Regions from separate parts of the Homo sapiens genome. Here region 1 is linked to region 2. A link means that fine-mapping ties the variant in region 2 to the expression of a gene that starts in the linked region. Tissue or cell type: left ventricle. Region 2 holds a variant in brackets; the other region holds the start of a gene. All regions are shown on one strand. Distances are between the middles of the regions.

What was found. PIP is the estimated chance that this variant, and not a neighbour inherited with it, causes the effect.
Region 1: SYT13 starts here. The variant in region 2 is fine-mapped to the expression of SYT13 in left ventricle (GTEx, PIP 0.98).

What each region holds. Positions count from the first base shown.
Region 1 is chr11:45,284,065-45,289,456 of GRCh38, reverse strand. It overlaps SYT13 (synaptotagmin 13), which reads left to right and starts at 3,116. Exons shown (of 6, transcript NM_020826.3): 1 at 3,116-3,432. The coding sequence starts at 3,250. RefSeq lists an enhancer at 2,935-3,721.
Region 2 is chr11:45,242,443-45,247,834 of GRCh38, reverse strand. It overlaps SYT13 (synaptotagmin 13), which reads left to right. Exons shown (of 6, transcript NM_020826.3): 5 at 1,323-1,452; 6 at 3,479-5,392. The coding sequence ends at 3,783. Among named protein-coding and RNA genes, the nearest start is that of SYT13, 41 kb to the left of the region's middle. RefSeq lists an enhancer at 3,704-4,204. The variant G/A (reference allele first, on the strand shown) is at 2,225.

The DNA of each region.
Region 1 (5,392 bases), 42 kb before region 2:
CTGCAGCAGAATCCAGTTTACCCTGACCTAAAACACCATCCCAGTTGTCATTAACTCCTACTCTTTGGGCAAGCCATGATGTCTCTGAATCTCCGTTTCCTTATTGGTAAAATAAAAGGATTCCACAGGTGATATCTGAAATCGTTGCAATGTTAAAATTCAGTTATTCCGCTGGTATATTTTCCTCCCTCCTGCATAGCACCATATGTAGACACCACAAATGTTTGCTAAATAAGAGAACCTCCTATATTTGAAATCCTTTTCTCCAGATAAAAGCATTTTAGTACCTTAGAAGTTCAGAGTGATTATTCAGAATATTTAAACATCTAACATGTACAATATTGATCAAAATAACAATGGGAACATTTCATCAAGAGGCTGGGGAACCTTCAAAGATCCATCCCTCAGCCTCGTAGATGCCTCCTAAGCATCTTGCTCTGTCTGCTCTTAGAAATGTGGCCTCAGCACTTCCAATTATTTGTGGGTCCCAGCCTCAGACTGTCTTAACTGATCCACTCAGCTGACTCAGTTAACTGCCTTTCCCAATAGGCATACTCTCATTTTTCAAAGGAACCTAGTGATGCCTTTTTTCTGTGGGTTGTCATTAAAGGCCACTGTCTGCATATCAGTAGCCAAGAAGCAAACATCGTATCTTTGATGAGATATATGAGGGTGACTGGTTGGGTAGCAAAGGTAGCCCAGAGTCCTGATCACTCAACTGGGCTTTGGATCCCCTGGGGTCTATTCCTAGCTCTGCCATAGGTTCACTGTGTGTGAAAGAGGCACAAGGCAAGCTCTTCTTCTTGGGCTGGGGTCCCTCTTCCTGTTATAAATGAAGGCCACTGCAGCTGCTGTCATCCCAGTAACCATAGTAACAATGGATCATGTGACAGGTGTCTGATTCCCCATCAGACATTTTCTGATATTAAGTGTTCTTCATCCTTCCCCTTTAACCCCACCCCAGATCCTGTTATGAGTAGTGGCATTGATGGTCTCCCAGGGCAGCCGTTTGAGCATGGGAGACCTGGAGCTGACAGCATTAATTAAACCTCTATTTCCACAAAACATTTTGCATTGCCAGGCCCGGAGCCAAGAAAACCTCCCAGGGCAGCTCTTATGTGAGAGATTGCTAAGGCTGTCACCAGGGACTGCAGTGCTTCAGCTCTACAGTTTGCAGCAAATGGGGATCAGTAGGAAAATGTGCCTGGCATACAGCAGGCACACAATAAATACTTGTGGAAAAGTCAGTTTACTAAAATGGAGCTCATATCACAAATGGGATTCCTTCAAAACACTGGAAATTCTGCATAAGATGATCATATGAATTATTCCACGGTTACTGAGTGCCTGCTATATGCACCCATGGGTGATAACATGGAGACTCTAAAGATGTTAGCTTGTTGAAGGAATCCCAAGTCCATGGGGTGGCTGAGGCTCAGGGGCACATTGGGAAGTGTGTAGAGAGGAGTCTGGAAGGCTTAGCAGGGACCACATCACAAAGGGATTTGGATAAAGGTTGAGTCTCTTGGGTTTATTCTTGGAGAACCTTTGAGAGCTGTGAGTGACATGATCAGCTTTGTATTTTGGACACCTCCTTTTGATGTCACTGAAGGAAAGAACTAGAGGGAGACTATTGTTTTGATCAAATAGTGTTCTAGAATTTCTGAACCCAGGCCTTAAGACAACTGGCAGCTTCTGCTTCATTCCTCTTAGAATCCAGCCAGCATGCTGTGAGCAGCTCCAGCACCATGGAGAGGTGACATAGAGGACAACCAAAATGCACCAGCTGACAGCCCCATTGTGATCCCAGTGGCAGCCAGCACCTACTGCTCACCACGTGAGTTCACCATTGCACCATCTGCAATGGTGTCTGGAGAGCTGATGTCCCAGTCCAGCTGAACCCCTAGATGACTGCAGTCCCAGAAGACAACATGTTGAGCAGGAAAACCACCCAACTGAGCCCAGCCAACCCATGAAATCATGACAAGTAACACAATAACTGGTCTAAGCCAGTAAGTCATCGGTGGGTTTTTATGCAAGTGTAGATAGCTGAAAAACTGGAGGACGGGTGGGTTCCCAGGTGGTGGTCACAGCTACAGCTCAGAGGAAAAGGTCTGGCTGGAGAGGCTATAGATTTAGGAGACATTGGCTCATAGAAATGTGAAAGCTCTGTTGTGGATGAAATCACCTACATCCCTTTTCACACATGCCCAGCACACCTAGAGCACAGCCAACCCACAGCAAATATCTGCTGAATTAAATTCAACACTCCATATAATGAAGAACACTAAAAAGCCACTGTTTTCTTGAGCTAAGACAGTCCTCATGCCCGGAATTCTAATTTCCCCTTGTTCTAAGCATAGTTTTATGCTCACCCTCTCTGAATCAAGTGTGTACTCCTAGCTGCTGCATTTTATCTTCTTTATCCTCCTAAGACAAGTCCGTTTGAGTGTGGACTTGGAATCTGCAAACATAAGCTTGGGTTCAGGGTGATGATTTTTCTACCTGTGCACCTCTCTTCTGAGCCTCGGCTTCCTCAACTATATATAAAGGTGCGAATACCTGCTGATTAGGTAATAAAGGTGAACTCTTGGGCAACCCTTAAGGGGATGCAGCTGTATTGTCCATCTTCAGCAGGACACAGGTACAGCCTCAACCCAAACATCCCATCTGTTCCCTCTACCTGTGGCCTGTTCCTCTTCCCTGTAAGAACCATCTCCCAGGTTGGGGAGCTGGGAAATCTCCAGCTTTGTGTTTGAAAAAGCTCCCGGAAGACCCAATTTTACAGCCAGCTTGGCCAGCTGCTGGGGTAGAAGGGTGAGCAAGGAGCTAGTAGTCTGGGAAAGTGACTCCTAGAGTCGCAGATCTGGTTGGAGCCCAGGTTTGTCCTCTAACACAGTGTGACCTCCGCAAGCTCCAGCACTTCTTGGGCCCAGTTGTCCCCTGTTGTACACAAAGCATTAAGAATGGCCTGAAACAACCCCAAGGCTCCTTCCACCTGGAAGGCTCCGGCTCCTGTTGGGGTGGGGGTCCGGTCACGTGTTGGCGGGGAGGGGGTTGCCGGTTGACGTGGCTGCGGGTCCAGCCTCCTCTGACGTCCTCGCAGCCGTCCTCCCTCCCTCCGTCCCCGCCCCTCTGGCGGCGGGAGAGCTGCTGGCTCGCCCGGATCCCGGGAGCTGCCTGGAGGCGGGCCCGGCCCGGGGAAGGTGAGCGGCTGCGGGACCCAGCCCCTCGCCGGGAGCGGGCACCATGGTGCTGTCGGTGCCTGTGATCGCGCTGGGCGCCACGCTGGGCACAGCCACCAGCATCCTCGCGTTGTGCGGGGTCACCTGCCTGTGTCGGCACATGCACCCCAAGAAGGGGCTGCTGCCGCGGGACCAGGACCCCGACCTGGAGAAGGCGAAGCCCAGCTTGCTCGGGTCTGCACAACAGGTGAGCGGGGGCGGCGCGCAGGCCCTTCCCGGGCAAGGCGGGGTTGCCGGGCAGCTGCAGAGGGGGAACTGGGGTGGGAGGCGGTCGTGGATCTTTGCGCGACAAAGCTTGGCGGGGAGGGGACAGCAGACGCGTTGGAGGACAGGTCAAGGAGTCAAAAAGGTAGGGGGATGGGGGAGGCTAGGGGATGGGGGAGACGAGACCTGAAGGAGAATTAGGGAGCGGCGAGCTTGTGGGGACTGAGAGAAGAATGGGGGCCAGCAGCGAGACCTAAAGGGAGGGGACAGGAAAGGGGACCTGGATAAGAATTAGGGCTGGGAAGGGTAAGAGGAGAGGGAGGCTGGGAGGGGAATCGCCAGGGTTAGGGAAGACCCTGAGAGGTACCAGAGAATGAGGAGTTTGCAGAATTGGGAAGAAGACTGGGGTCTGTGAGAGGGAGATGGGTGGTGGTTGTGGAGCCAGGGTAGGGCAAGTCCTGCCAGAGCTGAGAAGAGGTAATGCCTGCAAAGCCAGAGGGGAGGTGGCCGCGGTCCCGCAGGAGCTGGGAAGCTAGCTAGCGGGGTCTAGAGAGCTGAATCCGGGAGGAACCTGAAGGACTCTTCCCCACCCCCTAGCAGCTCTGAGCTCCAGCCAGTCAGAGGGGGTTGGTATGGCCTCCCCCAAGATGTCTCTGCAGACGTCCCTGGAGACAGGAGGGCTTTTATCCCATGCATTTGCTCATGGCCAGAGCCCCTTCGTGCAGGAAATAGCCCGTGCTCCCATTGTAAAGAGCAGCAGAAGGGGTCTGGGGAAGCAGTTTGGAAGGATTTCCCTGCATAGGCTGTGACCTCCAGGATGCATTTCCAAAGTACAGAATGCAGAATGTTCTCTGGAGAACCAGGAGGCAAAGAGTCCTGCTAGAGTGATTTGAGGAAGGATGGCCCTGGGGCAGGGGCATGACTTAAAGGACCTCCTAAAGGCCCTCTAGATCCCTTATAGACTGTATGGTTCCAGGAGTGGCACTAAAATGCTGTGACTCCATCTTCCTTTTTCCAATCAATAATTCAAAAGCTCAGAGGACCCAGTTGTGTGGGGCCTGTGTCAGTCACTGTACAGTGAGAGTGGAAAGGAAATGGCTGCTGTCCTTGAGGCACTTATAATCCAAGAACAGTGACATTGACAGTGGCTAAATAGGAGCCGGCTGCACAGCAGAATGTGGGACTTGGGACGATCTGGAAAAGGGGAATAGTGGGCTTTCCACTGGCCAGGTGTTGGGAGTCCTTCTCCACAAGTCGTGGTCGGCCGCCTCTCAACCTTCTTTCCTGCCCAACACACTTGAGGAACAGCCACTCTTCTGCCTTTCAGTGATGTCTCTCCAGGCACCGCCCCCTCCCCTTCCTAGAGAGAACCACTGGGAAACTAGTTGGTGTAAATGACCTCTAGGGTCTCTTCCAACTCTTTGTCTTATTGATGACCAGTAGCCCACAGAACGGCTGATCATCTGTTAAAGAAAAACCAGGTTGTGTCTCTCCCCTGCTTCAAATCCTCCACAACTTCTCACTGAGCTTGGAAGAGGTCATAGCAAACCATGACATAGCATACACTGTGTGCCAGGCGCACTGTTCAGAGTACACTAATTAATGTGTTTCTTGACCCAGTGAGGGAGCCATAGAATGATCCTAACTTAAAGATGAGGAAACTGAGGCTTAGAGAAGGTAACTGACTTGCCTAGAGCTGCACAGCTAGAGAAGTTTTAGAGCCAGACTCTAGCTGAGCTTGTCTGATTCTGGTGGCCACACTATTAGCCACTCCTCTCCACCCACTCACCTGCTTTAACATGGAAGGTGCCTGCCTCTCCAGCCAAGCTCATGCCAGTTTCTTTCTTCATCAGCAGTCTTGGCTTCCCTGGATTTACGATCATTCTTTTAAAACACCAAGCCCTTTTCTGCCCCTTCATTTTTCTCTGGCCTTTCATACAAAT
Region 2 (5,392 bases):
TTCTGTCTTCCCCATGTGACTGCAAGCTTCTTTGAGACTGATTCTGTTTAGTTCATGGCTTTAATTATGGCATCTGGAATATAGTAGGTGCATTGCATATGCTTGCTGAATGAATGAATCCACTAGAGGCCACAGTGAGCAAAGAAAAACCGATTTCAACCCTTCTGAGTGCCTGGTCCAGGATGGATGAACAGACATCCTGGGTGTGACAGAAGGGGAGGAAGCTTAGGGAGTCACGGTGGCTGTTAGCCAGGGCTCCAGCCTGGTACCAGACCTCATTGAATTACCCTCATTGCACAGCTGGGAAAGAGGGACAAAGCTGGAGGGAAGGGCCACAGGACTGAAAGCTGTGACATCTGGAGGGACAAGCTTCCATGGGGCCTTCCCCCACTCCCACTCCCCACTCCATCTTGGCACAGCAGGCCACACATCTGCCTCTTCCTTGGGATTTCGAGGGAAGGGCATCTTCTTCCTGCTCAACAGAGGAGACTTCTGACCTTCAGCTGATCCCTGCCCACACACTCCCTTCTCTTTCCTGCCAGGTCTCCCCAGAGCTTGGATTGCAACCAAACACCCACCTCCTAGGAGGGGTCTTTCGGTCATTCTTGTCCCTTGACGGATTTGTTGAAATTCCAAATAAACTCCTGTACGAATTTCAGGAGAGTTACTCTAAAGCTGCGTGCAGGGATAGATGTGTTTGTTTGGATGCCTCACAGGGGCATCAGCACCTCCTTCAAGGTGTGGTTATTGCCAGTTGCCTCTGGGCATGATCTACCATCATACACCCCAGCACTTCATTGACATTACTTGTCATTCTGTTGATGAAGCAACCTCCTGGAGCTGGAAAGAACTATCTTTTCAAACATAGTAATGAATTACAATTCTCCCGCTGCCCCAGGAACCTGATGGGTCCATGCAGGGATTCTGAAACTGTTCTCTGAGGCCCTAGAGGACAGAGGTGTCCCAGGAGCTTGGGGGTGGCAGAAGGTGAAGGGTAATGGGGAATTCTGGCCTCCTCCCCGCTGCTGCATTCTGAGTAGCCTTTCTTTGTTCTGTTTTGTATGTTGGATTTGAGTATATGGTATATGAAAAATCACATTTTGAGGCAAACAAAGAAACTGCTATTGAAGCGCATGCCGCATGGAATTCCTCTGTGCCTTGCTCTCTTCTGCAAGGGTGGACACCCCAGCATTGACGGGTAAATGGTTTCAAGGATGCGTGTTGGATGCAAATCCAGCATGGTTCCAGCTTCAGCATTTGTTGATGGGTTGGAAGGCGTCCCCAGGTGAGACTCCCCTCCTGCATCTCCTTTTCTGTTTCAGGAGCCATCTGCAGGAGCTGGAGAGGTCCTACTATCCATCAGCTACCTCCCGGCTGCCAACCGCCTCCTGGTGGTGCTGATTAAAGCCAAGAACCTCCACTCTAACCAGTCCAAGGAGCTCCTGGGGAAGGGTGAGTGAGATGTGAGAGGATGGCCAAGGCCCCTCCAGCTACCGGGAGTGTGTGCTGAGGGAGGTGGTGCCTGGGAGGAAATGGTCACAGGTAAGCAGGGAGGTGGAATATGAGCACATCTACGGAGCCATGCTCAGCGGTGTTCTTCACCCTAAGTTCACAAATTGATTTTCGAGGACACACTCACTTCTATGAGTTCCCATCCATTTACTCTTGGATCAATCCCATCCATTAGGACCCCAGTGTGAGCTACCTGGGGTTCCCTACCTTGGAGATCCACTATGAGAACCATCAGCCCTAACCACAGAGCACAAGAAGCCAAGGGTCAGACTATAGCCGTGGAGTGAAGGGCCTGGGCTGTCGGGAAAACTTGGCCCAGCCCTTGTCACCCACACCTGGCTGGACCCACCTTTCAGGCAGATGTCAGGAAGGCCAGGTTATTCCCCTCCTGTCTGAACTCACCACCACTGCACTCCTGCCACCCACCCCAGTCTCTTCTCTCTTCTCAGCCTTTGCCAACTGCCACCCTCACACCAGCTGAGTGTGGGTGATGGCAGAAGGTGTGTGGGTACATGGGCTGAGGCCTGAGGCTTCAGGCGTCTGTGCCCCATATACCCAAATAAGCTTTTCTGCAACACCCTGGAAGCCTCAGTTTTTCCTTCTGGATACCCCAGCCCAGGTCCAGCATCTCGGAGACCAAAACAAGCTCTCCTATATGAGCAGGAAAGCATCCTCAGCTAGCCAGATAATACCTGGACTGGAAGCCACATGC[G/A]CCTAGCAAGATATAAATAAGTCTCTATTTATAGCAGGGTACAAATAAAGAATTGCCACTGCATTCTGAATTTCGAGCAAAAGACTTGGGGCTAATGGAATCAGAAGAGTTGGTCTTGCTGGCAGGTTCCTGAGTCAAAGGTCAAAGTTCAATGCTTTTATCTCATTCCCTTTAGACAATTCTTTGCTTCTTGCTCTCTTTTATAGCTCCTGTCAGGACAATTACAGTACAACACTTCGTCTCTCAACTCTCTCTGTAGAAATAACAAACTAACCTCCCAGAGGTGATAATTACAGCAATAAATACAAAGTAACAATTATTCTCACATTAGCTTTGGAAACATTGACTAAGTAATCCAGTCCAGCCTTGTGATGTGACATGAAAGCTCGCCTGGTGACCTGTTTGTGGATTTCCTTGGGGCCAGCTCTCTTGGTGCAGTGCCCTGGGTTTGGGGGAGCGTGCAGGAACAGGCAGTCTGCCTTCATCCCTCTTCCACATGAAGTTGGGGGTCTTCAAATAAAACTTTAAAAAGTACGGATGAGAAGAACTCAACCAACCAGCAGGGGATCTCCTATTTTGATAACAGACAAACATGCTTACACCAAGAATCAAGGGGATGAAGAGTTGGGAGCTGGCTTCATTTTTCTGGTCTGAGTTTAAAATCCAGCTGCAGGACCCCTGAGCTGTTGTCATGGACCTGGTTTGATGTGAGGATATGAAGTCATGTAGCAAAGGTGGTTCCCTCTTGGTACTCTAACATGCCCCAATCACAGGCCACCCAGTGGCCAGCCTTCTATATCATGGTATTGGCCGTTTCCTACACTTTAGTGTCAGTTCTATGGAGGCAAGAACTTCTGCTGCATCCCCACTTCTAGACCAGTGCCTGCCATAGGGTAGGCACTTAATATTTGTTGAATGAATGCATGGCCTAGTGGGGGAGTGGAGAATAATCCCCAATGCAAGGAAATGAAAGCATCCTGGATCGACTCCTAGAGTTATAGATTGTCCGGGTGGGATGCTTTCCTGCTGGTATAGCAGAGCCTTCTATGGTCACATAGACTTGGGACCTGTGCTGGGGTATCCAGAAGGAAAAACTGAGGCCTCTAAGATGTTTGGGTATATGGGGCACAGATGTCCGAACTCTTGAGCATCTTTCCAGCACCAGGAGGGAGCTTTGTCCTGGGCCCTGCCAGATCCCAGAAACTCACTCTTGTCCCTTCTCTCTGTCTCTTTTTCCCCTCTGCCCCTCCCCAGATGTCTCTGTCAAGGTGACCTTGAAGCACCAGGCTCGGAAGCTGAAGAAGAAGCAGACTAAACGAGCTAAGCACAAGATCAACCCCGTGTGGAACGAGATGATCATGTTTGAGCTGCCTGACGACCTGCTGCAGGCCTCCAGTGTGGAGCTGGAAGTGCTGGGCCAGGACGATTCAGGGCAGAGCTGTGCGCTTGGCCACTGCAGCCTGGGCCTGCACACCTCGGGCTCTGAGCGCAGCCACTGGGAGGAGATGCTCAAAAACCCTCGCCGGCAGATTGCCATGTGGCACCAGCTGCACCTGTAACCAGCTGCCCAGCTGCCTCCCTTCTTGGACAGCCCTGACCCGTCCTCTGCAACCTCCTTTCTGTGCCCCTTTCCTCATTCTGACACCCAGAAGACAGTGACAGATGTGTTTGCAAGGCTGGGATGGCTCTCTCATCATACTCTTGTTTCTTAGAAATAAGCAAGACAGAGCAGGAAATGGAATATGCGGGTCACACTGAGGAATGCATTTTGCTCATCTGTGTTATTGAAGGAGGTGCTTATTAAATACAGTTCCTATGCCTGTTTTATAGGTGGGGTTAGGCCAGATGCAGAGAAAGCTAAATGTGGGAATCATGGATGCAAAGAAGAATTTGGCTTTTTGAAAAACAAGCATTTCAAAAATGATGAAGGAAGTGAAAGTATCCTGGATCAACTCCTAGAGTTAGAGATTGCCCAGGTGGAAAGAAACCTTAGCCAGCGTTCAATCAAGCTCACCATGCAGGGCAGTCACCCGGCAGTTCTCAAACTTTAGCATGTGAAGAGTCACCAGCAGATTCCTGGGCTCGCCTGGAGACATTCCTAGTCGGTATTCCTGGTCGAAGCCCAGGAGCCTTCCTTTTTAACAAGCTGATGTAGAGGGTGGAGCACTGTATGTGGAGAAATTCCTTCTACAATATTCCACACAGGTTTTTGGCCACAGTCCTTGATGGAGTCCCAAAACCATGGTGCAGCCAGTTCCAATGCTGGACACCTCAACCATCAGGGTGAAATCTGGGGCCTCAGCTTTTTAATTTAATTATTTTAATTCTTAATACTTTAATTTGTGCATTTCATAAGCCCCCTGCTCTTGGACTGAATTTTGTGCTTTTTATTGAAGAATTTTATTGTTTTTATCTTAAAATCAGTTTCTATTATCCTTGGGGAGACCATCCCTAACAAAGTACAGGTGGGATCTCCTGTGAGTCATTGGCTGGGTTCTGATTGCTAGATGTCACACCCACCAGCATCACCAAAGTGACTCTGAGATAGACCGGTCCCTTCTCAGCGTTCCAGTCACTTCAGGAGGAATTTAGTTATTGACTTAGTCTATGACATCTGGCTACATGTAGGTAGAGAAGAAAGATAATTTTAAAAAGGAAATCAGGTCTTTTGCAACTGTGCCTCCCTCTGTCTGTTTTCACTTGAATGGGTAAATAACCAGCAGCTAGGTTTTGAATTCCTACCTTGTTATTCTAAACAGATGTCCACATTGTTAATTAAATCTAAATTATGAGCCTTGCTGAGTGGATACGGTACTTACACCTGAACCAGGATTCCTGGGTTCTGTTGTTGACATTGCCCTTCAGCACCTGTTTGGCCAGCTGTGTAAGATAGGACTAATGACTAGGAAGCCTACCCCAATGAATGATATACTAGATGAAATAGTGTTCAAAACCTGTAGGCACTCTCTGGCTAAAAACAAACTCTGAGGCCACCAGCAGATCATCTTTAAGCTAAGTTACTATTTTTCACCTTTTTTTTTAGACGGAGTTTTGCTCTTTGTTGCCCAGGCTGGAGTGCAGTGGCACGATCTCGGCTCACTGCAACCTCCGCCTCCCAAGTTCAAGCGATTCTCCTCTCTCAGCCTCCTGGGTAGCTGGGATTACAGG